Regions from separate parts of the Homo sapiens genome. Here all the other regions are linked to region 5. The links come from fine-mapping of genetic effects on gene expression. A gene starts in region 5. Each other region holds a variant in brackets. All regions are shown on one strand. Distances are from middle to middle.

Region 1 (5,107 bases), 95 kb before region 5:
ATATCTTCTGATGACTTTAAAAAGTTAGTTTCTGATAAATAAATCAGCACAAAAAAGACAGAACTTATTTTTAACCACAGCAATATTTATTTACAGATGACAAATATTCTAATTTCCATTAAGCCTTTAAGTATTTTCTGAAAGCTCAATTTTCCATAATTGAGAATCAGATGCAGTCTTTCCATCAAGTTAAGAATCTCCTAAAGACAGTTTCCCCACCTGAGTTACCAACTCATAACTCTATATCTGAGATTTAATGGGGGAAAGAGCATGATGTTAAAAGTGTATGGGATACACTGCCTCTTTTCAATTATTCAAGAGCTGATTTATTTTGGCTTTTTTAAAGCTTACTGTCTTTCTTCTACCCTGGTTTCTATCATCTCATTAATTATCCTAAACAAGAGAAGATGAAAGAAAAAGACATGAGACAGAAAAAGAAATGAATATTCAACCCATCCTCTTCATTTTTGACCCTTTCAGAAAGGGAAACATAGTGACTAAAAGGAATATTTTAGATTATCTGGACATTTCATTCATATATGCCTTCTTTTCTCTCTTTCATGTGATTAGAGTTTATTATTTATCCATTATTGAAAAATTAGGATAAAACTGCATCCACGTTTGTGAAATAGAATGCCAGATTTACAAATTTGGGCAAGTATCCACATTATGGTAAAGAGTGTCTGTAGTGGACTGACAGTTCCACTTACATGAAAGAGATGCTTTAAGTAGCAGAATTAAAACACAGTGCAACTGCTGAGTTAATGATGGCACAGCTCTTTATTTTTCTATGGCAAAGAATGTGAATCTCTTACTAAACTGACTGTTTAACATGCTGAGTTTTTGTCCCCAAAACATTCTGCATTCCATTTGTAAGAACATGGACTCGACTCTGAATTAAAGTGTAAAAATGATTTATAATCTATACAACACTATAGATTATTATAATTTGGCTCTGAAGGGTTGGTTTCTTTCAACTTCTGCAGTCTCAGTTGTGTTGCCTGCTGTTCTAGCTGTGTCAACACGGGCAAAATTGAGAGCTGAAGTAATTAGGCAAATAATGCAGGCCAAAAATATGTCTGAAAGCTACTTGGCAATTTCACTCCACACTGATCAAAATCAGTTCAAAATAGTCCAGTTCTTTAATTTGCTTTCTCCTCCCTAAAAGCCTTAAATAAAAACACATGAAACCAATGAAATGTAAGTAATTTTCATTTGGAATCTCATATTTATATGTGTATTCTTAATGTTCCTTTCTAAATAAACCATTAACAGTGTGGATAAATCTAGTCCCAATAAGTCACCACTACTACAGTTGAGACTGAGGAGTGGTATGGTAAAATCAGCCAACAGCCAACTCACAACATCTCCCCAAGGAGACCACATGATCAGAACTCACTCTTCTGAACAATTTCTTGATGATTAAAGTACCGTCTTTTTCTCATTAAGTGAAGAGGCAAAAACATCCAAGTAACCACTTCTATAATGCTTGACTGAATTAACATTTCAGGGGAAAACTGTTGCAATAACAGACAGAAACCTCCTTTACATCTATGGCAGAGATGGCTTCCTAGCCACCTATTCATGCCACTCTGCCACATTATAAGGTATTACCGGGATGTAGTTGTCCAGCTAGGGAGTACATTTCCCAGCTCTCTTCTTAGATGGGGCCATGAAAACTGCTCTTGTAAAGGCGATAAGTTCCATCTCTAGACTGAGTTAAGAGGGGAGTATCTCAGACGTTTCTCATCTTCTGTCTACTGGCTGAATGTCACTGTCCCATAAAACCTTGAAAATCTCATATTAGAGATGGTACTAGAACCCAAACATGAAAGGACCCTGGGTCCCTGAATCACCTTTTGAGGCCAGCTGCCTGCTAATTAGGAACACAAATTCTAGACTTTATGTGAGAGTAAGAAATAAGCCTCTATTCTTTTTGAGGAATTATACATTTTTGACCTTTTTTTTTGTAGGAGCTAGAATTACTATAGCTTAGACAAATCCTATCCCAGTATTTTGAACACAATGCCTCTTTATTGGAAGCTTTCTTCACTGCATAATGGTGGTGATAGTTAATACTTATAAACTGCGTACCCTGTGTCATACACCGTCTAAATCCTCTACAAGTATCAGCTCACTCAATCCTTACAACAACCCCATGAGGCAGGTACTATTAATTATTCCCATTTAACAGATGAGAAAATTGAGGCATAGTGAGAGTAAGATCACATAGTAACAGAAATTGAACTGAAAAGCAAGATGATACATCTCCAGACCAAAAATAAAATACTCTGCACTCTGTATTTTATAAGTACATCTTCTATTCCATGTACATTTTAATACATTCTGCAGATAAGCAATAACAATTGTGGACTGGTCATCTGATTTGTTAAAAAGATCACTCTTTCATACAGCAGAAAGTTGTCTCTAATAACTGAAATAAAGAAGAGAAGCCATTTGAAGTCTAAACTGTTCCTCTCACAACCAGAAATAAGAAGTTTTAAATTAAGGGCAGCAGAGATCAATCCGTATAAATAATATCTAATAATTTAACAATGAAATAAAGATGATTCAATTAATGTCATATTATAATAAAGTTTAGGGCATTTCTAGCACTTTCCTAGTCATTTTCTATCACTTTTTACTCTGTAGTCAAAAGCCTATTGTATCTTTGAGAATAAATACCTTGTGCCAACATTATGATGTTGCTGAGCCATTGTCTTCTCTCCTTCTTCCTGACAAGGTCCATTGCTATGGGCCTTGAATGTGTCCCCCAAAGTTCATGTGTTGGAAACTGAAGTCCCAATGCATCAATGTTGGGAGCTGGGGCCTAGTAAGAGGTGGATTAGGTCATGAGGGCCATGCCTTCATGAAGGATTAATGTTATAGTGGAAGTGGGTTAGTTATTGTGATAGTGGGCTTGCTGTAAGAGCAACTTTGGCCCTATTTTGCTCTCTTGCTCTCTCATGCTCTTGTCCTTCTGCCTTCCACCATGCCATGATGCAGTAAAGCCTTCACCAAATGCAGGCCTCATCCTTGGACTTCCCAGCCTCTACAACTATAGAAAATAAATTTTTCTCTTTATAGGTTACCCAACCTGTGGCATTCTATTATAGCAACA[T/C]GAAATGGGCTAAGACATTCAAAAATAGGAACTTTGTTCATCTTGAAAGTGTTTGGTGAGGAGATTTTTAGCCCTTCTCTCTATCTCATTTGTTCTCAACCAGAAGAGGTTTAGCCTTCCTCCGCTGTGTGGGGCCTTCCCCTTACCCTCTCTGATGCTCCTTTGGAGCTTCATGTCACTCCTTTCCTTCATCCAGTAGGAGGCTCTGCTGGGGACCAGATGAAAAATTTATTTCAGGAGGAGGCGTAAAAAACCTATTTTACCACAAGTCCAGGCTGTGCTTTCCAACTCAGTTTACCAGAAATAAAGCAACAATGTAGGTTTCAATCTGACTGGATTGGCTCAGAACTCAGAGGGACATGAGTGAGATTAATTGGTACTCTGAAACTCCCATAGATATTCTAAATTATTTATTGAGTTACAGCTCTTAAACTAAAAATAATCCACCTACCATCACTGAAAGGCTACAACAGGCAAGCGTTCATTACGGAGTGACATGTCCCTCACCTAGGAAGACTGAACATGTCAGCATGAGCAAATGTTGTCCTTCAGGCATGGAAATCTCAGTAATAAAATTCTGGCTGTACTGCAGAAGAGTAAGAGACTCTACCTTGTGCTGTCTTTGGTCCGATACCGTGTTATTGGAGAAGAGCAAATGGTGCACACCATGATCATAGGCATGATGATTCATCATCTTCTCTTGGTTTAGAAACATATTCTAAAATCCCTGGGAGTCTGGTTGCTTTTGTGTTTGACTGTTTGTCTTTCTTCTTTACCCACAGACTTTGTACCCCTCAACACTTCCTCTTCTCCCAATAATAGTTACTCATCAATTGGAAATAGACCAGATTATATTTGCTAAAGCTGCAACAAGGCTACACACATACCATTTTAGCAGTGTATCCTTTTAAGTGTGTGCTGATCATGAGTGGTACCTACTGCTGGCCCCTTCTTCCCTTTGGCCATTGACTTGGTGGCACTCCTTCCAAACAATCTCTTTCTGGAGTAACATGGAAGTTTATGATGGTTTCTTTGGTTCAGCTAAAGGAAGTTTTAATGCTGGGCCCTGAATCCCAGCCCCTTTGCCCCTTTTTTCAGGAGTTCCTTAGGACCAAAGGGATGTCCCTCCTTTCTTGGGGAAAGTGTGGATGTTTCATGAGATTGACACTGTATTTCCAGCAAAATATAATAACCTTTTCCCCTCTTTTTCTTTCTAGGTCTTTGGAAATCAAAAACGGAAGCAAGTCAAGACAAAACAACAACAACAACAACAACAACAAAAAAAAAAAACAAAACAACAAAACACACACACACACACACACAAAACACCCTAATATTTACTCTGTGTCTCTCCTGTGCCAAGTCAGGGTGGCATGATGCAGCCTCTACGTGTCTCTTTAGCTTCTTTTTGTACCACATTCACTCTTGTTCCCTGCATCCAAAGCACACTGTGTTGCTTTAAGTTCCCTGAATGTGCTGTTTTCTAATGAGCTTTTGCATGTGCTGTCCCTGCTTAAAAAAATGCTTTCCTTCCCCTTCCTCAGTACCTCCGTCTTATCCTCCAGATCTTTGCTCACTCATCACCTCCTGAAGGAAGGCTTCCTTGACTTCTTTGACCAGGTCATTACCTCTATCATGGCTTCTCTTGGCACCACATGGCTTTCAATCACAGTTGTAATTTTATATTTATTTTTGTGATTGTTTTAATTTCTCTCTAACTATATTGTATGCTTCATGACAGCAGGGACCATGTATGCTTTTTCTCATCATGGCATATTGTAAGCTATGTGTTGAATTAATGAATGGCTTTTGTTAATTCCCACAAAGTCCTGTGCTATAGATATTTTAAACTCTGTTTTCTAAGATAAAGAAGCACTATTTGCTGGGCTAAATGATTTGTCCAAGTCGCAGTAAGTGATAGAGCTTGAGACCATACCTATTCATGCATTCGTCCAATATTCATTGAGTGCTCACTGCATGCTTTGT
Region 2 (5,107 bases), 190 kb before region 5:
TAAGGGTTGAATGCTAATGCGAAAATGGCCTAGCTCAATCATTTTAGCTTCTCTGGCTTGGCCTTCCTAACAGCAAGAAAGAAGCCATCAATGAGCTACAAAACTTCATTTTTCCTACAGGCTGGAAGTGGTCTCTTTTTAATATATGTTCTGGATTCCACTGTCTGAGAGAAGAAAATTGATTTAAACATTTAGGTATCTACAGACAACTCTTACTGACTCAGGGGCCAGCGCACTCAGATTGCAGATTGCAGCATCCCTGTTTCTCTACCTTGTGCCTCATCCTTTGTGAATTCTGAAAGCTGGTTGCTTTTTCCCACATACTGAGGTCCAGCGTGGGCCACAGCACATGTTGGGACCTCAAGAGCTGAAGGTTCCTTGCTGGGCTCCCAGGCACAGAGGTACAGGCCTCCCTTCTCACTACTGCCCCTTCCTCAACCTCCACTGTCCCCATTGTCCTTAGGCTCACTGGTGTGGAAGAGACTTTAACAGACTGACATGCTGATCTTCAGGTTTCTCAAAGCGTGACCACAGACCACCTGCTTCAGAAGCACTGGGGGAGTTGGTTAAAAATGCAGCTTCCTGGGCCTCACCCCAGGCTTACTTAGTCAGAATGGGAAGCTGAGAATGTACATTTTTAACAGGCTATCCAGGTAATTCTTATGCACATATAAGTTTAAGGACCATAGATACAGGTGCAGGGTCTTAGTATCTAACTCTGTTGGGTTCTTGAGTTCAACTGTGATTTCAAAAAGCAAGGGATAGCATCTGAATCCTCTTGGCTCCTGGCAGAGTGACAGATTGGATTGTGAGGGATGACAGTGTCTGGAAAAGACTGGGAACAGGTAGGAATCTACTAGAAAAAGGCCAAGATAATCCCTAACTTGACATTTTGTATTGAGTATTATCATGTGTAATTGTTAGGGTGGCTTGGGTATGAATTAGAGAAGTATTCTCAATTTCCCTCTTAAGCATCAGAAGTTGCACAGGTGCTCTGAAATGAAACAATAGTACAGCCCTCTCTGCTAAATTGAGTTATCTATTAAACAAACAGAGCCACCAATGATAACCCATACACCCTTTGACTTAGGTTTCATCTTTACCATTGTATCAATGTTTGTAAAATAAGGCTAGAGACTGGAGCTCTAACTTTTCTCAATCCAGACTCTACCTCTCTCCAGCTAAGACCATGAGGTCTTTATTTCTTCTCTATGCCTTAATTTCCCCAACTGTGGGATGAATCTGCTTATAGTACTAGTCATAGGTACCTTTTAATGGTTATTAAAAAGGGTTGAACAGTAAAACAGCAGAGTACAAAACAGGTGTTATATTAGTAATCACTCTTAATAATTTCATTGTTAATCATTGTCACTGCAAAAATTAACAGTGACCTGACCTATGAGAAGAAGCTGAACTGTTTAGCTCAAATGAAGTCTGGGGATGACTTCTGGATTTAAGTTATTCACACTCAACCTATCACTTATTGCCACAGACACTTCAAAGTTCACAGTTCTCTGAAATATCATAATTTTCCAGAGCTTCCATACAGACTTGCATATAATTTTCCAGAGCTTCCATACAGAACAATTTGAACCTTGCAAATTGTTCTCATTTTATCTTAGGTCTAACAGGTTGGGGGTTGGGGTTTGTTTTTCTTTTTTAAAAAAATAGAACTTCTTAAAAACCAGGTCAGACTTATCAACAGAATCTAAATAAGGCTTGGTGTGTTGTGCAACCTCTACAACATAGCAACAATGAAATTTCACTGCAACTACTGCCCTCATACCCAATAGCATTTACAATACCTCTGACAAAGTGTGTCTATTTCCATGGTACCTGTTGCCATGGGAGCTGAGCAGTGCTCCTCCTAGAACAATCATGTTAGTAACATAGCTCTTAGCTATTGCCTTCTAAG[A/G]GCTTTGCTCTGGGGAAAAAATGGGATACTTTGTTTTTGAAAGAAGTCATAAACCTCCTCCAAAATAGACAATTGTTGCTTAATAGTACTAAAAAGGAAAGAGCAATCCCTCTTTCCCTCCATACCAGTTAGAGAAGCATTTCTTTCCTTCTGGAGAAGTATTTCCAAGTGAAACCATGCAAAATATAGGGAAGTGTGTTTTGAATTCCATTTTAAAGTTATTTTGCATAAAAGTTAAATAAAAAAGGAGATAGTTGTCATTGTTTACAATAAGTCTATCTTTACTAATTTGAGCTAATCAGTGAATTCACTGAATAAAATACAAGGTTAGTGCCAATTACCAATTTCCCAATGAACCCAAATACAAGGCTTTATAGCATGCTGTATTATTTAGTGTGTCCAGGCATTGCCACATAAAGCTGATGGAAGTATACATTTGTATCATCTTTCTAAAACACAATTTGGCAATAGGAGCCTTAAAATGTTCATATGTTTTAGTATGGTAATTCTATTTCCAGAAATCTATCTCAAGAAAATAATTTGAAATGAACACAAAGCCTTATAAACAAAGATACTCAATGGAGTGGTATTTAAAGTTTTTTAAAGCTAAAATCTAAATGTTGAACAATAGAGAATGTGTAACTAAGTAACTGAAAAGTGATAGGCATCTTTATGCTGTCATGAAAAACCATATTTATGAAGAGTTTTTAATAACTTGGGAAAATGTTTATCATATCAAGTTAAAAAAAGAAGTATATGAATTTATACAGCCAACATAACAAGTATACAAAAATATGTACAGACATAATAATAGAATATATGTTGAAATTTTGACAGTGGTGGTTGAATTATGGATTACAGTTATTTTGTCTTTTATAAGTTTCTATATTAATAGTATGTGTGTGTCTATCTCTATTTCCCATTTTCTCTTTTTTCTCTGCTTCTCTTTTCATCTAAGTGCTCATAAAACTACAAATCTATTTTATTATTTCCATATTTATTAAATACATCTTAGATTTCCACATGTACAAATCCAACAAAAACTTACCAAGCATTATTTGCTATGAACAATTCTTAATTTAGACATATGAACATATATTTCCTCTAACAAAAACAAGTCAGTTACTTTGCTTTTAATTTACTTGGTTCTTGATTCATATGTTTTATTCCATGAGTAACTGTCTCTCAATAGAAAATCATTCTGAATCTTAAAAAATGGTAATTTGAAAATGCCAAAATGTTCTCCATACTATTTTTTCAACCCTTTTTTCTAGCTCCAATAATGATTATCAATGATGAGTGTCATATCAATTCCATCCCCAAACCACACACTGCAGTAGGCACTGGGAAATAATGAATCTGGGTCACTAATACTCTGTATTCTCCACTGGGCTCTCTCACTCATGCTCATAGTTACCACCAGACATGGGTACCACCAGCTCTGAATCTCCAGCCTGGACCTAGCTCTTGAGTTCCAGGTTCAGGTCACTAACTGCTTACTAAATAAATCTTCCTGAATGTCTCCTAGGCATCTATGAACTCATTTTCCCTGTATCACCTTCTCAGATCGTGTTCCACTAAGCAGCCTTCTTTTTCATCCAGCTAATCACATCAGAACACAAGGATCATCCCAGATTCCTGTTTCTGTCTCACTGTTCCCTTCCCCTACCCTCAAACCTTGATTTCTACTTTCCAAATCTCTCCCAAATTCATCCTCTCAGCTGCTACAGCTTTAGTTTATAGTTTAGACCCTCGTCACTGCTCACTAGATTTTTTTAGTGATCTTCTAACTATCCTTTTGGTTACCAATCTGTCCTTCTCATGGAGAAATCTTTCTAAACATAAATCTGATCATGGTGCTACCCTTTAAGAAGCTAGAAGATCCAGCATGTGCTTTTTAATGTGGCTCCTTCCCATCTCCCCATCTTCATCTCCCATGGCTTTGCCACTGACATACTTTCCAGAAAAATGGAATTATCCTAATTCCCTGAAATCACATGCTATTTCACCCTTTGAGGACTTTACACACATTCTTTTCTTCAACTGAAATTCTCTCACCTGCTCCATATTTCAAGACTTAGCTCAAGGTTCAACTCCATTTGTCTTCCTTTCCTTATGGCATTACTATTTCTGGTACATCTTCTCATGATTATTTTATTTATTTGAACAAGATTTATTACACATCCAATGTTATACCATGCATTGTGCTGGCTGCTGGGTAGATAGACTACTTCTGCCCCCACAGAAGGATTCCACTTGCCTTTCCTGCTGTTGAAGTTTATACCTATGTCTCCTTTGAATTGCTAGAGGGCAGGAACTGACTCATGGTCATCTTTGTATCTCCCAGCTTCTGGCGAAAGTAGATGCCTAATAAATGTGTATTGAACAAATGGAAACAAACACAAGTGTTTCTGTTTACATTAACACAACAATAAAACTTAACAAGTATAAAAGTTACTCATAATTGCCAATGAGTAATGTTTCACACTTCATAAAACAGAAACAATTGTCTCTAGGGAACAAAATCAAATGTATACTTACAGAGCACATGGTTAAGCATTGCTAAAAAAGGCTTTGAGAATATGATTTGATAATTTATGAGTTTCCTCATAATTCTATGATTAAAGTGACTAATCATAGGGAATATAGTTAGTCCCACTGAACTCCACTCCAGAAACTGTGGTTCCTAATACGCATGCACTAATTTGCCTAATAGAAATCTTACTTATGAGGTTATTCAGCATTTAAGAGTGCAGGCAAAAGAAAGGAGAAGCAATTTGATTTGTACCTAGGGGAGTGACATTTTGGTTCTCGGTTAATATTTAAAAGTCAACTGACACAAGATATTTGGTGACATTCACTATGGTTGATGTATGAATCTGCCAATCCCATTTCTCCTTACTAACGCATTATTTTGGTCCTATACTGAAGCTTATTCCAGACTCAACCTCATGTTCTCTTTCTATTGGAAATCACTAGTTGGCATCAACTCTTTGCTTTTATATAGCTGAAAAATACGTTAATTAATCCATTTAAAGTTGTATGAAGGTAGTATTAATTTTGTGTATTAACACAATGACTTATTTTCTGATCTAAATATTTCCAAATCATCCTGGGATAGGGGAAGTGAAATATGCATTTCTAATATAACTGACATGGAAAATACATTTTGCAGATTTGAAATGACGTGGA
Region 3 (5,107 bases), 21 kb before region 5:
TCACAGGACTTGGTGCAAAACAATTATCTGCTTTCTATCATAAAATCATGGAATCCTGACAAAAGGAATACAAAGAACATTTGAAGTGATCAAGTTCGACTTCCCACTTAAAAAATATGCCTCCTTCTAAACCTCCCTGGTAAGTGATCATGAAGTCTCTGCTTGGACCCTTCCAGTGATGGAGAACGCCCTGCTTCATGCTACATGCTTTTTGGAATAGCTCTAACACCTGAACCCACAGCCTTTCCTGCATATGAAGAGACTGCAGAGGAAGCTGGCACAGATTGCCCAGCCCAGCAGTCAGGAAGTGGGCTCAGGGCCCGAATTTGTTTACAAATCCCACGTGAAGACTTTTAGCCAGGCCACTCTGCTGGAGACCTGAAATAATTTTTCTCACCAGGCCCAAACCTGCTTCTAAGCCCCACTTCATTAGAGCCTCTTTCATCTTAGCAACCACTTTCATCTTTCATCTGAGTAATGGCTCAGATTTTGAAGGCCTAGAGTTGAAGAGACCATAAAGTCTTCCTCTCCACAAACTAATGAAACATCAATTCACCATTATTATGCCTTTTATCTACAGAAAAGTAGGATCTAACTTGTAATGGTCACCACCTGAATGTAGCATCCCCTTTTTGAGGGCAGAGCATGCAGGTGAACTGCTAGGTGCTAAGAAGGAAGGGTTGTTAATGGCAATTGTGTCAAATTAATCTCAGCACAAACTACTGCATTTTATTATATAAATTCTCAAGATAATTGAATGCTATATCAAGGACATTCATCCAATTAATTTTTAAAATGTTAACAGAATTCCTTTATCATCAGATAGTTTTAATCATAACTGTCAAGAATTGTTTTATTTTTTAAGTTAGCATGCTAGAGTTTTAAAAGAAATTCAAAGTGATATAACATATGAAGGTTTTTGCTGATTATTCTTATAACTCATATAAATAGGAGCAAGAATTTACACTGTAATTGATTTAAGATTGGCCATATGAGTCATACATAAAAGATCCAAATCCTGCTTCTAAAGGCTTTGAATAGTCATTGATTCTGTGAACTTTGAAAGTTTTTGAAAATGTGCTATGATCCCAATATGGTATTAAGACTATTTTATGTAACCAAAGAAAAAAATACACCACTAAATTATAAAACTCTGGTGCTTATATGCTTGGCTGTCTGCAAGGAATTATAGAGACTATTGGAGACACAACCTCTACCTCAAGGGAATTTCTGCCTAGACAAGGAAATCAAACATTAATTCACTTGATACAGTACGAAGTCCATGTACACAAATCGTCACTGATGAAAGGATAGGAAGGACTCCAAATCCTTAGCTATCTATTTCAATAGTCCCCACCCCCCCGGGAAGAATATGTGGTTTACTTTCCTGAAAATGCACATTTGTTACCAGCTATAACTTGAACCCCAATATCTCATCCCCCTCATCAACTTAGCAGGAAGTTGCTGGAAGACTCCTTTTCTATATGTAGTTTATGGCCTTGGTTGGAAACAATAGAATTATGCAAATTAGTTGTCACCCCTACTTAGATTAACCAAATCATAGTTCAATACCCTGCTATATATTCAATAGGCCATTAGATCATAAAGCTAATCTAAGAAGGTATATAAAGTGTTTATCACAGTACCTGCCTGCCTAGCACTAGGTGCTAAATACATGTCAACTTCTTTCTCTTTTATCTATTTCCTCTCTTTTCCTTAACTACTCCCTGTTCCCCAAAGTATAGAGTACATTTTCATATTTGAGCATGGTAAAAGAAAAACCAATTAACTCCCTGATATTGCTATCTAAACACTGCATTTGCAAATCTCCAGGCTAGTCATGCATAAGAGAAAAAGTATATAAATACACCCCTATATCTGAGGGAAAACCCTCAGCTAAATTCTTCTCCATTTAGATAAAGTTAATATGAGTCTTTTGGAAAATCCCCATACTGAGGAAGGAACATTTCAGCCCACAGGCCTGACTCAGCCCACTGATTGATTTCATTCAGCTGGGGGTGAGAAAGCTTTGGGTGGCCCTGTACAGAACCCCAAGAATGGCTCCTACTCCTGAGCCCCAGTGGCCTGCTGGAGTCACCCCACTTATAGAAGTTTCTCCTGGTTTAAGGATCTAAGCAATCATAAACATGTGAATTACAATTTCTAAGGGAAGTAAAGCCAAGAACTCCCACTCTCACTTACTCCAGGTTCTAGAATTTAGCCAAGTCTTCTTAACTACTTCTCTTTTCCTCTTCTTCATAAATCCATTCCTTTTTTTACTTTTGCTTCCTCAAAGGGCTTCCCCCTCTCTGTGTACTTCTCTGTTAACTCTCTTTCCTGTTTTCTGAATTCCTCCACTTCCTCTTCCTTTTTGTC[T/C]ATTTGTGTCCATTCCAGGGGCCAAGCCTCTCCTTTCACCGCCACCTCTTCCCAGCCCCATTGCTCCTCTCTTCACCCTCACTTCTGCTTCTGGTGTCTCTTCTCCTGTCTCTTCAGTTGACACTCATTACTTTCTTCCTCTTTGCAAAGTAAAGCTGAATTCCATGTCCTGGCTTTGTTGTCTTGTAGGACACTTCTATTTTCCCTTATGTTATACAGGTGCTCCTCAACTTATAATGGGGTTACATCCTCATAAACCAGTCATAAATTAAAAATATCATATGTTGAAAACACAATGTATCTCAAACATTATAGCTTAGCCTCATCTATCTGAAATATGCTCAGAACATTTACATTAGTCTGCAGTTAGGAAAAATAATCTAACACAAAGCCTATTTTATAATAAAGTGTGGAAGACCTCATGTAATTTATTGAGTACTGTGCTGAAAGTGAAAGACAGAATGGTTGTATGGGTACACAAAGTACAGGTTCTACTGAATGCATATTGCTTTTGCACCATTGTAAAGTTAAAAATCTTAAGCTATTTTAAATTGAGGACCATATACATTTCGAAGACAGAAAGCCAGGGAGTATAATAAAGAGAGCATGAGACTCAGGTGTCAGAGATATGGCTTTGGCCTTGCTCAGATTCTACAAATGTAAAAATGGGGGTCACTCAATAAATGACGTCAGTGTTCCATCCATTCTAAACCACTTGAAGGAGGTTAGTGGTTATTATGCAAATAACAATAATTGATAGAGAATACAATAAAAATAGCAAATATTTATACAGTCCTTACTATGTCTCAAACACTGTTCCAAGCACTTCAAAGAAGCTCACTGAATCCTCAAACCATCACATGGGCACTAAGAATGTGCAAAGGGGGTGGGATCATGGGTAGGTTTTTTTCTCTTGCAAAAGTTTCTTTTATCACTGTTTTTACAATTTTAAAACAAGGCTGTGGAGTTGAGCATTTCCATTTCACTAAGAAAGTTGACTGAATTTTCAGTTTTATTTATATACAGTTGTCTACTGATTGTTTTCCCCCTGCAGTGCAGGGTCATTCATAGAAAAAACAAAAACAAAAAAACTCCAGGCTGTTGTGATCAACCTATGTACCAACTTTCCCTTTTCTAAACAGAAAATAATGCTTCCAAAGATTCATATTGACGTGATAATACATGGAGCATATCATTCAATATCTTTCAATAAACGTTGTGTGACATTTTCACACAAATGATCACAGTGGAAACATAATCATTATTGTTAGGAAACACAATCATTATGTGTTAAATAATACACTTAAAGGTTGACCTTGATGTCTTCTGTCTGGCAGAATGGCAGAGAATTTCATTTTAACAGATTGTTAAAGACTCCTTTTAGAAACCAATGCTCCTGGGAGTTATTATACCACATAGGGGTTAAATAAGCACAGAGCAGATTACTATACTTAAAAAATAAAAGCAACACAAAGAGCCTTAACAGCACATTCACTTTCAAAACAGGGGATGTCTGGGGCTTATTTCTCTAGAAAGTATATTACTTCTCTTCTTAAAAATATGATTTTTTTTTGTTCCTTAATGTTATTCATAAGAATAAACCAATTTGGCCAGGCGTGGTGGCTCACGCCTGTAATCCCAGCACTTTGGGAGGCCAAGGCGGACAGATCACAAGGTCAAAAGATCGAGACCATCCTCACCAACATGGTGAAACCCTGTCTTTACTAAATACAAAAAATTAGCTGGGTGTGGTGGCAAGCGCCTGTAGTCCCAGCTATTCGGGAGGCTGAGGCAAGGGAATCGCTTGAACCTGGGAGGTGGAGGTTGCAGTGAGCCAAGATTGTGCCACTGAACTCCAGCCTGGCAACAGAGCAAGACACAGTCTCAAAAAAAAAAAAAAAAAAGAATAAACCAATTCTTATTTCTGAGAATTGATATGCAAACATCCAAACTGTAAACAGAACTGCTCGGTTTTAAAATACTGTACAATTTCTAGAAAGCAGTATTAGGCATTTGCTCTTTCCAGACTTTTGGTAAAATAGGAACAGTTCTCTAACACCACGGATTCAATTTAAAATAAACTCACAGAAGTTCAATTCTGGTAATTCAAACATAATGGGCTGCAATTTACTCTTGTATTATCTATAATAAAAGGTTTGCTAAACAAATTGATAGTATAGTAAGTAGTGGCCACTCCAAATTTTCTACGTATAATGGCACATAGGGGCTACAATCTAGTTAGAGAAGTCAGTTGACTTATTTTGAAGCTGCATTTGCATGAGAAGCACTCTGATTTTACTTTGATGGTATGTTCATATATAAATAAAAGTAGAGCAGACTTTTTAAAATATCATATGCACACTTTACATAAAATTGAGAAAAAAACTGATTTTCCACATTGAAGAATACATATTTATTTAGGGTGGCATTAGATGACTGATGGAGATTTTTAGAGGGAGAATTAACATCATCTCCTAGTCCCACCCCCAAGCATTTCCTAATAATAATGGTAAAAGACTGTTGCCTAATCTACTTAAAATACCATTTGGTTCCAAAAACGTTGGCAGCGACTGAAGTGTACACAGACTCAGTAAATACACAAATGATGATGCATCACTTATCTGGGCAATGAAGATTCACATAGACCCATCATTAAGCCCTTCTCAGAGGCTGAGATTAGCTACTGTCTACTGGTAGAGCCATGACTGGAATCCAATATGGAATCTCCAAA
Region 4 (5,107 bases), 34 kb after region 5:
CTTGCTAACCCAGACCACTACCTCCCAACTTTGTATAAGATATAAATAAACTTCTATCTTTATAAAGTCATGATTATTTCTGATTTTCTGTCACCAAATTAAAACCAAATATTAATTTAAATTCTAAATGAAAAAATTAAAAACAATCACCTAGAACTGCATACTTGAATATGGTAGCCACTATTCACATGTGTCTTTAGCACTTCAAATGTGGCTAGACTGAATTTAGGTGTGTTGTAAGTATAAAATATACACTGTATTTTGAGGGCTTAGTATGAAAAAAGACAAAAATAGCTAATTAATAGCTTTTTACATTTATTATGTGTTGAAATAATATTGTCTTATGTTGGGTCAAAATATTTGTTAAAATTAATCTCATCTATCTTTACTTTTATTGTGGCTAATAAAACATCTAGAATTACATGTAATAGTTCACATTTTATTTCTATTGAACATTGATCTAGAATATAAGCTTTTTAATATAGATATCAAGTCAGTAGTTGTCTTCACTGAAGATCAAAAAGGACAAAGAAGGCAGACACTATAGCATTTCAGATTTAGGTCAGGCATGGGGTGAATGTCATGCCAGCAGGTATTTTTTAAACAAGAATAGAAGATTGTTAATATATCTTCCAAAGAAAGTGTATCTTGGATGATTTTAACTGTAATTCTGTTTTAAGACAAAAATGAAATTAATGTACAATGTCTCCAAAACACAATTTTAAAACTATGATAACTAATACAAAACCCACTATATTAAGTAAAATTCTTATATGTATATATAAATACACATATACAAATGCAAATACATATGATACATTCTATTATACATATATAAAATAAGCTTTTATTGTATTTACTATTGTTTTCAAGGGCATTAATGGCATTATTTTTGATGTCATCGGTCTGATTTAAGAAGGTTATCTAAAGTTATTTGGAACTTAGTAGTCTGTTTGGCTAAGTTCCTCTTGTATTTGCACAATTAAATTCTATTTCTCAATGGCAGAATTTGCAGGTTGGCTCATTCTGGCATAGCTAGCAAAATGATCATTCTGGCATAGCTAGCAAAATGGGGCTGACCACACTAATAATTGTTTCAAAGCTCTCTATATTTAATAACAGTGATGCACCTCTTTCCCAAGACCTCTTGTCAAGTGCACACATATACAAATGAGCTATGGTTTGTAAAGCAACTGTTTCTATGTAGGCTGGCTCTAACTTCTACAGATACTGTCATTTTTATATACATATGACTAAGAAATGGGTGTGCAGTAAAGTATTGCAAACTTTTACTTTTTCCAAATGGAAAGGGAATTCTTTATTTTGACTAATGGAATATTCTGGTTTTTGGAAAGTCAATATGCATTTCAAGTTTCAACATTTGGATTATATAAAAATACAGTTAACTCAAGTACAGAGTCAGGCTTTAGAAAGCAAATAATAACCCCCTCCCCTCCTTTTTTCCCTCCAAGCTTGAAAGCAACTGGGAATAAGACATGAGGCAGATAAATTGAGATTTTTAAAAATCAGCTTTATTACTGAAAAAGCCATTGGGAAAATATGACTGTAAATCTGTAGAGAAAAGGGCTCACTAACATTCTCTACTCCCACTAGAACTTGCAACAACCCACAGGAGAGAAAGTCCGGGTTTGTGCAGGAGATTCACTCAGGCAAAATTGCTCCCTCCCACTACTAGTTCGGGGCACAAACAGATGAAAACAGAAGAAAATCCCCAGTATTTTTAGTCTTATAGTAGATTAGCTTCTCCAAGTCAAGAAATGTGGGCCAATGAAGTCTCACATTCACTCTGTTAATTTCTCAAATATTTTATAGTAAAATGCTACAGATAGAAAAAGGATGAGGATAAATCTCTACAAAGTCAAAGCAGTACTGGTTTAGGGGTCTGTGGGGTAATACCCTCCCTACACATTGTGATTTAAATAAGGTTGGCTACAGTGGACATCTGTTGTTTTTGCCTTCGTAGCACTCCACATTTCTGGTGAGAACACCTTAGTTCTCCTTCATGAAATTCACCCTCTTCCTCTTATAGTACATAGGAGTCTGATGGCACTGACCCCACCCCTCAGCCCAAGCCAATCAGAGCATTCTATTGAGTATCTGACCCACGTTAGACCAATCAGCCTGAATCCTAGAACTTGTTTTGAAACTACTGGGAAAAGGGCATCCTCTTTCCTTTAGGGTTTAAAAAAAGGCAGAATGTAATCCTGGAACTACCTGCAGATGTTCCTTTCCAAAAATAAAGCCAAAAAATAAATCAGAATGATGGAAACCTTCTGAGTCCCAATATTTCACTTGAATAAATCCTAGATCTACAGTTTTGTCCAAAGCCAATCCTACCCCTGGAAATTAACCTGTTGCTTATGAAAGCCAATGGATTTTTTAAAAATGTAAGCTTTTTTGAATTGGGTTTTCTTCACTTAACTT[C/CA]AAAAAATCTAGATTAATAAATAAATTCTCTCTCTCTCTCTGTCTCTCCCTCTCTCTCTCACACACACACACACCCCTCATTCACAGATTTGTCACACAGCTGGAAATTGTGCCATAAGAGGACTCCTAGAAGTTACACATTGTCAATTAGGACATCTTAACTGTAAAGTCATTTACCAGCTTCGGGGGAAAAAAGAACAGTGGGAAAATGAACATTTTTATCAAGCATACTTGTATTTTTCTAAGTAAAGTTAAAGGATAAAGAGGCTAATTTCTTCTTCATTGAATCAGCTTCTAGTTAAAGGTTGATAATTAGCCAGGATATTTCAAATAGGACTGATTACTAAACGCATCTGGGGAATTTTTAAAACAGAAGCTTATAAACCTCTCTGTAAATCTACTAAATGATATTCTCTGGGTTATATTCTTAGAAACTTAAACAAATTTCTACAAGTTACAAGTGATTAAATAATCAGACAGGTTTGCAAAATGTTGGTCTAAACTGAGCTGATGATAATGCACCCTGATAGTATCCATTCACTTACTAATTCATTAAGGCATTACTTTTAGGTTTCTATTTTGCTAAATGCCACCGAAATGCAAGTATGAATAACACGTGGCCCTGACTCATTAAAGAGCTCACAGCCTGGTTCAAGAGACTGACCCTATGGGCTCTATGGAAGCATGAGTCAAGATCTGAGTGGACAAGTTGGGAAGGGAAAAAGGCTCACCCTGCTGGGATATATTGAGAGAAAGTTTTGAAAAAGAGGAGACAGTTGAAAACTAGTTATAGAGATAGGCTGGTGGAAAGGGAAAAAGAAAAGCATTGAGGCCTAGGGACTAGTGGATATGAAAGGATAGTGTGGTGAAAAGCCTTGGAATGCTCTGAAAATGATGAGTTTGGTGTGAATGAAGGAATTTCTGCAAAGTGGGATGTGGGAGATGAGGAAGTAAGAGGTAATTAGGCCTTTGACCTATGAAATGCTCAGAATTTGGGTTTTCTTGTGTGCCTCCTATAGTTTGTCTCCTCCTAATCTCATGTCAAAATTTGATCCTCAGTGTTGGAGGTGGGGCCTAATGTGAAGTGTTTGGGTCATGGGGTAGATCTTTCATGAATAGATTAATGCCTTCCCTGCATGGGGAAGGTAAGTGAGTTCTCTATTAGTTCCCATGAGAGCTGGTTGTTAAAAAAGAGCCTAGAACCCCCACGCTCCTTCTTGCTTCTCTCTCACCACATGGTCTCTGCACATGCCAGCTCCCCTGTGCTTTACACCATAAGCAGCCTGAGGCCCTCACCAAGAGTAGATGCAGACACCATGCTTCTCACACAGCCTGCAGAACCATGAGCCAAATAAACTTCTTTTCTTTATAAATTACCCAGCCTCAGGTATTGTTTTACAGCAACACTAAACAGACTAAAACACTGTCTCCACTGGTTATGTATCATCCACTGATCAACCCAGGTTACTCTCTTACTTTCCGCATGAAGTCACATTCCTTTCCAGCTTAAATTCCAAGGCCATTATTGACCTCCACATGGATACATCCTCAATACTTCTCCCCCTTTTTTACTTTGCTGCATACATTTGGTTAAATCCCATCCTTGGTTAAATCTAACTCTCCCAGTCCTCTGTACTAGGCATACACACAGCTAAAGGTGGATGGAGAAAAATCATAACCATACTGACTGATCTCACCTTACATTCCTGATCGTTAAACTCACTAGAGAGTAATGCAGCCAGGCAATCATATTCTATTTACCTAGTCCATTCACTCTCCCATTTTCCTGGACCATTAAATTATACTTTTTCTTCTGTCATGAAACCTCCACCTCCCTTCATATTCTTACTCTCAGATGACCTTGCTTTCTACTTCACTGAGAAAACTGAGGCCACAAGAGGGCTTCTACACACCACCACCACCACCACATATATCTACCTATCTGCTTCTGTGCCCATTGACTGCCCTCTCTCCTGCCCAAGCTCTGAGATAAAGCTAACCCTGTGACCTGTGCACACCCATCTTCTATCAATTCCTCAAGGACATTGCTCCAACAATTCTCCCTCTATCATGAATAATTTTTGTTCCCTATTGGATCACTCCCATTAGCATAAAAGCATCTTCTTATTCTTCCATATTAAAAAATACTCCCATGACCCTACTCCTCTCTAGCATCTGCCCCATTTCTCTTCCTCCTTTAGAGCAAATCTCCTTGAAAGAGCTGCCTATAATACCCACAGTCTCCGATTCATCTTCTTCCATTCTTCTTGAATCCCCTCTATAGAAACTGTTCTTTTCAGCAGCATCAGTAACTTCAATTCTTAGTCCTCATCTTCCTTGACCTATTATCACTCTATTTTCTTCATTTGGCTTCTAGAACACCACCCTTTCCTGGATTTTATCTCACCTTTCTGGCTAGGACTCAGTCTTCGATGGTTCCTTATCATCTCTCTGACCTTTAAATATTCAAGTTCCCCAGAGTTCAGTCTTCAACCTCTTCTATTTTCTACCCACACTAATTCTTTTGGCAATTTCGTTCAGTCTTATTAATCTTTATATTAATGACCCTAAATATATATTTCCAGCCTGGAACTCTCCCATGAACTCCAGACTCCTAAGTTCAACTTCCTACTTACCATCTCCACTTGCATTCCAATTAGAA
Region 5 (5,107 bases):
GTGCTCCTTCCATCTTTCTTCATTCTTCTCCCATCCAAACGTAGTATCATGTTTGATTTTATTACTATATTTGTTGCCTAGGATAGAAAACCCCAAACACATTCAATAAAGCAAGGTATTTCTATAATAATAATACTAAAAATGCAAAATGCATTGTTATTTACTACAGCCACCTTTCTGTAACAATGCACTGTACATTTTGAAATTGCTAAAAGAGTAAATTTTAAACGCTTTTACCACAAAAAAAAAGTACATGAGATGATGGATTTGTTAGCTAATCATTTGACAATGCAGACATATGTCAAAACATCACACTGTACCCCACAAATATATATTCTAAGCATTTCCTATATAATAACTTTTGTGGATATGTTACTGAGCATGGGGCACTTAGCTTCCTTTTTCTAGTTCACATAATCTTAGTGGCACTAATAGGAGGTGGGTAATGTTTCATAAAGAAACAATTTACTTTGATTACAGTGGATAAAGATTCTGAACTATGAGCAGTCTATCCTCAACAAAGAATGGTAAAGACAAAAACTACCTTCCTTTGTCTATTATCATTTGCCATCTTCTTTTGCAATTATAAAGAGTTTTGTTTTCACTTGGATGCAGAAGTTGAAAGAGAGACTGAGCAGCCATTCTTAGATTTAAATCCTCCCCCACTCCTAGGGATATAATAATTAATATATAACCTTTGGCGTTTGGCGTTGGGGCTTTTGAGTACTTTTCTTTCTTTCTTTTTCTTTTTTCTTATATAGGGTCTCCACTTTTTCTCTTCCTTTCAGGATATTGACAATTTTTATTCAACGCATTCTCCAAACCTCTTTTCCCCAGCTCAGATCTTCTGTACCAGGGCAGTTAATTACGATTACCTTAGACATTCCACATAACCCTTAAGAGAAGCTTACGAAAAGGGGTTTCTTTAAATCAACCACCAAGAGCACACACACCAGTCCCACTCCCCTTCCCCTCCTCTGGGAGCACCCCCCACCCCAGGCCTTCTAGCTCTACATTGCCAAAACTACACAACTCCCACTCCACCATAGCAAAGCTTTCTCAGGAAAGAGCACCACACAGCATCCCCTTTCCTCTCCCTGGAAACAGCGTTAACCAGGCCGGCAGCCTCAAAGCGCGCTTCCTGGATCCTTTGACCAGGATGCGCCAGGGGCCTGGGCTCCCGCTGGACACTGGCGCGCTCAGACTTTGAATAGGGCGTCAGGCGAAGAATGGCCAAACCCAGGGCAATTTCCGGGGTGGGGGGGGGGGGGCGCTTAGACTGCTGGTAAACTGTACCACGTCCACTCACCACCACCCAAGCCCTCCAACCCACAGCCAGGCCCGCCGCACTTAGGACTTGAAGTTTCAATGCTCCCTGCAAGGTGGGGCCATCCGGGCAGCGGCGAAATACAGGTTTTGGGCGGGGGCAGCCACAGCACCCAACCCTCTTGCAAAGCTGTGCCTCCCGAATTAGGGACAAACTCCCTGGGATTTGTTTTCTGCGGGAGAAAAGGCGGAGGGATGTGGGGGGAGTAAGGTGTGGTGGCGATTCGTGGAGGGCAAGGGTAAGGGGCAGTTACAGCCACATCTCTGCCCTGGACAGAGCCGGGTCCAGGGGCCGCGGGCCTGCCCGCCGCTCGGTTGTCAGCATCTCCTGTAGCCGGCGCGCACACTGCGCGCAAACACGCCCCCCAAAATCCCCACAACCTGTCAAACGGGCCCTACAGCTCGGAGCCTCCTGGCAGGAGGGAGAAACTTGTACCCAGACTCGCCAGCAGCCAGAATGCTGCTGTTTGCCTATGAGAACAATTTTTAAAGCGGAAATAATCATGATAATGAAATAAAAGGATCAAAAGCATCTTGACTTTTTCTGAGCCTTTGGGAAAAATAAAATTGTTGTTTTCTACCAGCCCGCGAATATTCCCAGTCGCCCGTGGCGACGCGGGGGTGGGGTCGGCGCTCAAGGCAGAAAGCGCGAGGCAGGTGCCCAGGAGAGCCGCGCAGAAGGGGACTGACTGGGGGGCCCTGGTCCCCGACGCCATTTGAGGGGCAGCGGCGCCCGCCTTACCTGTGGATGCAGTTTCCATGGCAACGGGCGACTGCCGGGCGGGGCCCGAGCCGGCTTCCCGCGACGCCGCTTCCCGGGCCCTGGCGCCCAACCCCGGGCTGGGCTCCCCAGCCTGCGGCGCCGGCGTGGCCCCTTTCGGCGTCACCGCTTCGTTCTCCCCCTCCCCCCGGTGCCTGAGCCACTGGGACCCGGGGCCGGCCAGCGGCAGCAGCTCGTCCTGCGGATCCCCCGGCGCGGCCATGGCTGGCGGTCCCCCGGCGCGGCGACGGCGGCTTGGCTGGGCAGAGGCTCGGTGGCTGCGCGGGCGCTCCCTGCTGCTGTCCCCGGAGGGACTCGGCGCTCAGGGAAGCTGCGGTGTCTCAGCGTCGCCGCCGCCTCTGCTGCAACTCCGCCGAGCCGCTGCCTGCCGCTCTTCCCGCTTCAGCTCCTCCTTCTCCCCCCTCCTCTTCCTCCGGCCCCGCCGCGGCCGCTGCCTGCGCTCCTCCTCCTACTCCACTCGCTGCTGCCGCCGCTGCTTCGCTATTCCCAATCCTGTTATTACGCAGGTGAAAATGGCCTGCTTGGTCCGGGTCCTCCTGGGCACGTCAGCCCCCAACCTGCAAATGGCAGGCCCCGGTTAGGGGATGTGCCAAATCCACTCGAATCTTCCTCTCGTTTGGGGAGGAAAAAAAAGGAAGAACCAGCAAGTAGCAGCAGCCACCAGCAGCGTCGCCTTCCCAACTGAGAAAGTTAAGCCCCGACTGGTGTCCTGGGTCCCGAGGCAAAGAGGGAAAGCTAGAGAACTCAGGGCCACAGTTCTGAGAGTGACCAGTATGAGTTGTGGAGGGGACACAGGTCTGAACGGGGAAGGGGTGGAGATGGGTTCTGATGGCAGATGGAGACCAGGGAAGCTGCAACCCCGCGGTTAAATCCTGCGTTTCCAGAATGGGCCTGAAAATAGTGGAGTAAAGAAATGAGTTATCAGGACAGCCTCCAAAAAAAGCTTAACAGATCTCACCCTGACCAGCCCTGAGGGCAAACAGGGTGTCAATAGGCAAGGACAAAAGCTGTACATTTGCTTTCAGAAACACTGAGCCAAGGCCATCCTAATCATAAGCTGTCTGTGCAGTCCGTTGTATTTCAGAATTTGGACATTCCATGAAGCTTGCATCTTTTTCTTTACAGTTCACTGTGATAAAATGGAAGATAGTCAGCAAATAAACCCAAACTCAGAGGAGGAAAGTGACTTGCCTTATCATATGTTGTGCCCATACGAAGACCCATCTTTTCAAATGTCTTGTGTTTTATTGGTTCCCAAGTTGTTTATATAATAAAATAATGTGCCTTTAAAAACTAAGATTCACCACAACACACAGGGTGAAGGAATAGGTTTTTCTGCTGTTTCTTCTCTAGGAAAGGTGGGCGCAGACGGTACCGCACACACTGTGAGACTGTGGGACTCTTGGCCACCATGCGCATCTTGAGGATTTCATACCTGTCCATTGGTATATTCAAAGGCCAACTTCAGGACCATTCAGGTGCTCCTCAATAATGCTAAAATGAAAAAGCCCAGAGTCTGCCTAATCTTTTGTTCTGCTAGTGCACTAATGTTCAAAAGATGACAATAAATTAGAGAAAAATCATTCACTAAACAATAAATATGGCCTCCTGAAGCCAGATATCCCTGGAAATCTGATGGTCACCAAAATTTTACATTTTTGACATACTCAAAATTATGTCTCATGATGGAAATATTCACTATCTAGATTGTGGTTATAGCTTCACAGGTGCAAACATATGTCAAAACTTATTGTTTACTGTAAATATGAACAATTTAATGTGTTGTCAGTTATAACTCAATAAATCTATAAAAATAATCTCATCCAAAAACAACAAAATAATTGGTTATCATGAATCATAATGATTTTTAAACATCTTTCCATGGGAAAACAAGAGTGTATTTAAAAAACCGTTAAGTTGAAAAGCTTATTCCACTGCTGTATTTCCATGGAGCTTAATCCTGTCTTGTAATTAGAGGGCACTTGTAAGTTTTTTCAAATCTATTACTTAGTATTCCCTAAAGCATCAGAAATACTAGATGGGAATTTCTCATGGTTTTATTACTGATAACAAGACAAGAACATAGACAATTCTAATGATATAACCTTAAAGTGGTTATTGATGAATACTAATATTTGAGAATTGCTATGCAAAGGAGTTACATACAAAATAATATGAAGTATATTCTTTTGTTTCTCTGAGAAACATGAATGAAAGTCATCATTAAAAAACTGGGAGACCTAAGCAAGCCTCTGTGTTTCCTTATGATTAATAGATAGGAAGTTTGGGGATATGATTCTAATTATTTGTCAATTTCTTTCATACTAATCAATACTCTCATTGAGAATGTGTGAAGGAAATAGCCAGTTAAATCTATTTAGAGTGTAGTTGTTAAAGGAAATTGAACATTATTGACAGTTCCATTTTGATAAAGTATTCTATTTTACACTGCTGAAAAGAGATGAGCACAAGATTTCAGTGTTAGCAATTTTCATTACTAACTTTCCTTATTAGACTCCACCTTTGGATGTATAAAAATTATCTATTTGGGGGAAGAAATTTTCAGGTTTATGCTATGACTTGAAATGATTCATGTTTATTAATATTATTTATTTTGCACCGCTCTGAACTGACAAAGCTTGACTAATTTGAAGATTTATGGGCAAAACACACAGTCGGCAATGGGATTCTGGGGCTTACATAGTTGCTCTAAGTTACGAATTACTCTAAAATGCTTTTCAGACACAGAGAAAATAGGATTGTCACTTTTAAAAGGTTCTTAGCAAGAAGAGTTGAGACAAAAGAACTGTCACGTTTTGTTTTCAGCTTTTGTTTTTTGGAAAAGAAGTTTTGTTCATCATTTGAAAAGAAGAAATGAGGAGCATTTATTTAGCACTAGCTTCTTAACTTAGTCCAAACCATATATCATGGGGAAACACGGTGTGGGGACATGCAGGAAGAGCGCCACAAGTAACAAGCTTTAACCAAGATGAAATTCTT

Direction of the effects. Positions count from the first base shown, and alleles are read on the strand shown. Sizes are in standard deviations (SD) of each study's normalised expression. Not every link is listed here.
For the expression in tibial artery of the gene that starts at base 2,455 in region 5, G is the high allele of the variant in region 2 and A is the other (large effect, 0.77 SD a copy in GTEx).

The links. PIP is the estimated chance that this variant, and not a neighbour inherited with it, causes the effect.
Region 1: its variant is fine-mapped to the expression of RTN1 in whole blood (INTERVAL, PIP 0.99).
Region 2: its variant is fine-mapped to the expression of RTN1 in tibial artery (GTEx, PIP above 0.99). The same link has a PIP of 0.9 or more in aorta and coronary artery.
Region 3: its variant is fine-mapped to the expression of RTN1 in whole blood (TOPMed, PIP above 0.99). The same link has a PIP of 0.9 or more in blood mononuclear cells.
Region 4: its variant is fine-mapped to the expression of RTN1 in whole blood (TOPMed, PIP above 0.99).

Annotation. Positions count from the first base shown.
Region 1 is chr14:59,773,424-59,778,530 of GRCh38, forward strand. All of the region lies in intron 1 of RTN1 (reticulon 1), which reads right to left. Among named protein-coding and RNA genes, the nearest start is that of RTN1, 95 kb to the right of the region's middle. The variant T/C (reference allele first, on the strand shown) is at 3,122.
Region 2 is chr14:59,678,259-59,683,365 of GRCh38, forward strand. All of the region lies in intron 3 of RTN1 (reticulon 1), which reads right to left. Among named protein-coding and RNA genes, the nearest start is that of MIR5586, 34 kb to the left of the region's middle. The variant A/G (reference allele first, on the strand shown) is at 1,916.
Region 3 is chr14:59,847,594-59,852,700 of GRCh38, forward strand. All of the region lies in intron 1 of RTN1 (reticulon 1), which reads right to left. Among named protein-coding and RNA genes, the nearest start is that of RTN1, 21 kb to the right of the region's middle. The variant T/C (reference allele first, on the strand shown) is at 2,377.
Region 4 is chr14:59,902,292-59,907,398 of GRCh38, forward strand. No RefSeq gene overlaps it. Among named protein-coding and RNA genes, the nearest start is that of LRRC9, 15 kb to the right of the region's middle. The variant C/CA (reference allele first, on the strand shown) is at 2,446.
Region 5 is chr14:59,868,322-59,873,428 of GRCh38, forward strand. RTN1 (reticulon 1) reads right to left here and starts at 2,455. Exons shown (of 9, transcript NM_021136.3): 1 at 2,069-2,455. The coding sequence starts at 2,309. RefSeq lists a silencer at 2,364-2,463.